Linked DNA regions of Homo sapiens: region 2 is linked to region 1. Evidence: fine-mapped expression QTL. A gene starts in region 1. The other region holds a variant in brackets. All regions are shown on one strand. Distances are from middle to middle.

Region 1 (2,901 bases):
TCCGGCCAAAGCCCAGACCAGTACAGTATGAATTGTCCTATGAGACTGAGGGGTTCGGCTTCATTCCTACCTGCCCGCAAAGCTCGCCCCCAGCCTCGAAAACAAAGCGACTGGTCTGACGTGGGGTCCCTGCGCCCCTCCTCTAGCGCGACAGGACCCCCCCAGGGAAGAGCCAGTACCCGTGGGATGTCACCCCGTCCCCATCTACCGGGGTGGGGGGCCTGAAAGGAGAACGATTTAAAATAATCTTCAGAAAGAAAAGGGAGGAGGGAGCGGGTGACACATCGTTCACATAAACCCAATTTCTGGTTTCGAGTGAAGTCAAGATCTCCGCCCCTGCGCCTGCACACACACCTCCTGCCTAACATTCTCAGCTGCAAATGCCAAAAAAGAAAAAAAAAAAAAACAGCAAAAGTTGGGACTGCCACCTATTTATTTAGGTAATCTCCAGCCCTACACACCCCAACCCCTCTCTCGGACTCATTGCTCATTACAGTGTTGGTTGTAACCGTTCCCAGCGCCTCCTGCGGGTGGACAGGTCGCGCTAGGGTCTCCCTTGCTGCCTCAAGAAGGCGAGCTCAGGGGACTCTGCGTTTTAAAATGGGTTCCAAAGCGGCGCGCTCTGTCGGCCCAGCGGGCTTGCGGCACCAGAGGTGGTCTGCAGCCGCGCAAGGATTCCCACGGTCGTTCTGGGCTGGTGCAGAAGCTGGTGCTCCCGCACCCAGCGGCCAGCAGGCTCGGCGCAGCACATCTCCCCACCCCACCCCCACACACCCCCGTGGGGTGCGTCGATCCTGTAGCTCAGAGGGAGAAGCTACTTAGAACTTCGTGAAGCACAGAGGATCTGGAGCGAGCCCCGCAGCTGGGATCAGTGGTCTTAAGTTGAACCCGCTTACAGGAAGATGCAGCCCAGCTCACAGCGAAGTGTGGGGGGGCCGTCTCTAAAGCCGAGAAGGGAACCGCTTTAGAAGTGGGGGTGGGGGGAAGAAAGAATGAATGAATGAATGAATGAATGAATAGAAAGAAGAAGGAATATTAAAGATCGGAGAGGAAGTTCAAGAGAGAAAAGAGTTTTCTCTTTCCTTTCTGTTCCTGGTGACTTGGGCCCTCAATCTCGATGAAGATAACACGAGGAGTGCACAGGCAAGTGCCCAGTTGCCAGCAATTGCTTCAAAAGCCCATGTTCTTCTTTTCCCCCATTCTTAGGCACAGCCAAAATTGGTCAGAAAGGGGAGTAAAGTGGGACACGAGCTTCAAAGTAGGGAAACCAAAGAAGGGAGCATCCACGTCCTCTCTCTGCAGCTTCTCCCCCGCGTTCTTCGGGCGAATCCGAGGGACGGGCGCTGCGCTGGGGAAAGTTTGTCCCACCCGCGTTTCGCAGCTGGTTGCAAGGAGAGGAGGAGGAGAGGGAGGGTCAAGCTCGGAGCCTGTGACCGCACGGATGATCGAGCCGGCGTCGCGCTTACCTCGCAGTCCTCGTACTTGATATTATCCGTCAATTTCCAAAGCATTTTCATGGATCGGCGTGAACGGATATGCCCCTCTCGGTCTCGCACCCAAGTGGAGCTACTCTCTGGGTGAGCGCAAAGTGCTGGCTGCCGGCGGTGAGCGCAGGAGGAGGAGGAGGAGGGAGAGGAGGTGGAGGAGGAGAAGGAGGAGGGAGAGGAGGAGGGCAAGGAGGAGGAGGAGGAAGAGGAGGGCGAGGAGGAGGAGGAGGGCGAGGAGAAGGGCGAGGAGGAGGAGAGAAGGGAAAGAGCTCCCGTGTGCGCTCGGAGATCTCCCTCTAATGGTAGAAACTTTTCCCTTTTCCAGCTCTTTACCAACAGCCTAATCGCCTCATTAGCATATCAACAATAGTCCAATTGCTCGCCAGTACCACAATCTGCCGCCGGCCGCTCCGACACAGGTATAAAGGCCTCTCTACGCCGCGAACTTGCTTCTAGAGCGCACTCCAGCCTGCGAACTGATAAAACCTTCCTCGAGCTCCGCCGCGAGGCCCTGCCCCAACACCCCCTCTCTTACCCCAATTCCGCCACATTCCCCTTCCTTTCTTTCTCCGCTTCCTTTTCTCCAGAGATGCCTTCTGCAAAGCCCGGCACTGCTCAAGGTCCAAGCGCCACGCCTGGGGCCCAGCTTCTAGCACTTCTCCCTTAACCCTGCTACCACGATCCGAGCTGCCCTTTTGGCCCCGTGCAATTTTATTAGAAATCATTATCCCTTTCGCAATTAAACATAACCACCAAACCAAGACCGGCGAAGTCACTCCAGGATTTTTTCCCAACAAGGGATCGCCTCCGCTCGAGGCAGCCACCCCCTCGGGCCGCAGCGCCTTGGGAGTTTTATTGGCTTTGAGCTTTCCCCCAGGTTGGAGATTCTGCCAAGCGGCTCCGGTGGCTCTGCTGGGGTTTGCAATCCCTTAATTGCAGCGTGTAAAATAAAAGTTGTACCCTGAAGAGGTTACTTGACAGCTCCAGGGGTTAAACAATTTTTCTCCTGTTTGTGTGAAGCTAGGGCCAACTGACAGTTCAAATTGGTGTTCAGGCTAAGGTTTCCTGGGTGCAACGTGGACACGAATACAGAACTCCTATGGAACTGCACACCCGCTTCTGAAGTTGAGCCTAAAAACAGACGTGTGTGTGCCTGCAAGTCTAGATACCGTCTCGTGCGTGCATCAAAATAAATCACCGGGAACCGACTTTTAGCTGTGTTAATCTGCTCTAGTTTTCCCAAGATTCCCCTTTTTAATTAAAGCAGGGAGAGTTCCTTCATGATTTGGTGATGCTACTAACGCGGGCGTGCTCGCGAGGCAGAGCCCGGCTGCCGCGGAACCTGGAGGCCTGGGAGCCACCTACTCGTCCAGACTGGTCAGTCCGGGCTTTTGGACTCCTCACCGGGGCCTGC
Region 2 (2,901 bases), 64 kb before region 1:
GAGGTCAGGAGATCGAGACCATCCTGGCTAACACGGTGAAACCCCGTCTCTACTAAAAATACAAAAAATTAGCCGGGCGTGGTGGCGGGCGCCTGTAGTCCCAGCTACTCCGGAGGCTGAGGCAGGAGAATGGCGTGAACCCGGGAGGCGGAGCTTGCAGTGAGCCGAGATCGCGCCACTGCACTCCAGCCTGGGAGACAGAGCGAGACTCCGTCTCAAAAAAAAAAAAAAAAAAAAGTAGGGACATTGAGTGGTTCTCCCAGTGGTCTCTATGGCCTCTGTACATAGGGAGGTGATATAACCTGTTAGGAGTGAGGCCAAGAGTGGAGTGAGGGTATTGGAGAGCTTTTGGAACAGCAGCCCCGGAATAGGTAAAAGAGAAGCCGACTGAAAAGTGGAGATCGGGGAGTTATCAGCCCTGGGGAGAGAACAGCATTTCTTGAGTACCTGTTCTGTGCAGGCAGGATTGTGGCTGATCTGCAAGACGATGGTGACAGTGACGACAATGACTGATGGTGGCCTTGCCTATTTGCCATCTCACTGCCTCTTCCTCCTTTGCCACTGCAAACAAGAAGGTTGGTTGCAGCTGTGACTTGCACTGTGTAGGAGGATAGAGCTGATTCTTTCCCACCTTCCTGCTGTCACATCACGTCTCTGCTTCTCCCTCCTCTGCCCAGCTGCCCTGCTCAGTTCCCATGAATCTGGGGGGATGTGTTACGAGGAAAAAAGACAGAAAACACCCCACCACTTATCGCAGGGAAGATGGGAATTCAGAACCTTTTTGTTTGTTCATTTGTTGTTGTTGAGACGGAGTTTCACTCTTGTCGCCCAGGCTGGAGTGTAATGGCACAATCTCGGCTCCCCGCAACCTCTGCTTCCCGGGTTCAAGTGATTCTCCTGTCTCAGCCTCCCAAGTAGCTGGGATTACAGGGGCCTGCCACCACACCTGGCCAGTTTTTGTATTTTTAGTAGAAACAGGCCACCATGCTGGCCAGGCTGGTCGCAAGCTCCTGACCTCAGGTGATCCACCCTCCTCGGCCTCCCAAAGTGTTGGGATTACAGGCGTGAGCCACCGTGCCCAGCTCCCGTTTGTTTTAAACAGTTAATAATAGTGATTCTTTATCAATCTCAGACTCTGGGCCAGGTATCGTTCTACACACTCTGTGTATTAACTCACTTATTTCTTTTTTTCTTCTTTCTCCTTTTTTTTTTTTTTTTTTGGAGACAAGGTCTCATTCTGTCACCCAGGCTGGAATGCAGTGGCACGATCTCAGTTTACTGCAACCTCCACCTCCCAGACTCAAGCATCCTCTCACCTCAGCCTCCTGAGTAGCTGGGATTATAGGTGCACGCCACCACAGCAGCCTAATTTTTTGTACTGTTAGTAGAGATGGGGTTTCACTATGTTGCCCAGGCTGGTCTTGAACTCTTGAGCTCAAGTCATCCAACCACCTCAGCCTCCCAAAGTGCAGGGATTACAGGCGTGAGCCACAGTGCCTAGCCTAATCCACTTATTTTTTACACCAGCT[C/T]CATGAGATGAGGCAGCATAGCTCTCATGAAATAGATTCTGCTGTCATTGAGCCTATTTTACAGATGAAAAAACGAAGGCACAGACTTTCGCCTAAGGCTACACAGCATAGGCTATAAGTAGCAGAGTTGAAATCTAGACTGATTGGCCTCAGCCACTGCTTTTGATCAACACACCATACTGCCCTCCTATAAGAAAGCTGAACTTGGGGAAACCCTCAGCCGTGCTTTTAGAAAAGACTTTAGACATAATCTATTCCAGCCTCCTATATCAAGCAGAATTCCTTCTGCAGTTTGGACAACTCAGGACTTGACAGGCAGCCTGTTTCACTGCTGCCCAGCCCTAACTGGAACAAAACCTGCCAAAAACCTGTTCCTCGTCCTCCCTTCTTTGAGAAGCCCAGACAAAATGTAGCTATCAAGGTGGTGAGCCTCACCACTCTCCTGGAATATGCAAGTCATTATCCACCCTTGCACAAGCAAAAGAAGGGCCAGTTCCTTCTCTTGCTTGGAGCTAAATGGGGATTAAAAAGAAAAAAAAAAAGAGAGAAAACAAGATGACCCCAGACTGAGGCACTTTACATGTGGCCTCATAGGGTACTAGGAAAGGGTGACTCTGTGGCTCTTAGGTGTGCTACACATCCCTGAAGCCACAGAGCATCTGCCTCCCTTAAACCACCCAGAAGGAGCACACTGCTAGGCTCGACCCTTGGGCATTCTAATGTCCAATCAGAAAATGTGTCATTAGGCTGGGCACAGTGGCTCACGCCTGTAATCCCAGGCCGAGGCGGGAGGATTGCTTGAGGCTAGGAGTTCGAGACCAGCCTACGCAACATAGGGAGCCCCCTCTCTACAAAAAATTTAAAAATTAGCCAGTTGTGATGGTGCATGCCTATAGTCCCAACTACTTGGGAGGCTGAGGTGGGAGGATGGCTTGAGCCCGGGAGTTCAAGGTTGCACTGAGCCATGATTGCATCGCTGGACTCCAGCCTGGACAACAGAATGAGATCCTGTCTCAAAAAAAAAAGGAAATAAAGAAAAAGAGAAAGTGGTGCCATTCAACATTTGTTTAGGCTCCTCAACTGACACAAAAATGGACTTTACACTCTAAAGCCTATCTCTCGAGGCAATAATTCACAATTTGCTTCTGAAAGTACAGGGTGAGTCTGGAAATGGCTTCCTCACCGCCTATTAATTAAGCGTAGATCTCTAATCTCTGGTTTTCCTCTGGGCCAGCAGATTGACTCACCGTGCCCTTCCAAGCTCGGCCTTTTGTCAAGTACTTCTAGGCCCCTGTGGGAGCTCAGTGGGTCTGTCCCCATTTCGCTCTATCACCATATGGGCTGCACTCACCTGAGGAGCGAGAGGGCACGT

The links. PIP is the estimated chance that this variant, and not a neighbour inherited with it, causes the effect. A credible set is the group of variants that fine-mapping cannot tell apart.
Region 2: its variant is the best candidate, but not a certain one, in a credible set for the expression of TFAP2A in tibial nerve (GTEx, PIP 0.83).

The regions. Positions count from the first base shown.
Region 1 is chr6:10,413,475-10,416,375 of GRCh38, forward strand. TFAP2A (transcription factor AP-2 alpha) reads right to left here and starts at 1,600. Exons shown (of 7, transcript NM_001372066.1): 1 at 1,467-1,600. The coding sequence starts at 1,517. TFAP2A-AS1 (TFAP2A antisense RNA 1) reads left to right here. Exons shown (of 3, transcript NR_033910.1): 2 at 1,207-1,577; 3 at 1,813-2,695. RefSeq lists enhancers at 824-1,481, 1,482-2,141, 2,800-2,901.
Region 2 is chr6:10,348,975-10,351,875 of GRCh38, forward strand. It overlaps LOC105374921 (a long non-coding RNA gene), which reads right to left. Exons shown (of 3, transcript XR_926459.3): 1 at 2,881-2,901; 2 at 448-561. Among named protein-coding and RNA genes, the nearest start is that of TFAP2A-AS2, 54 kb to the right of the region's middle. The variant C/T (reference allele first, on the strand shown) is at 1,530.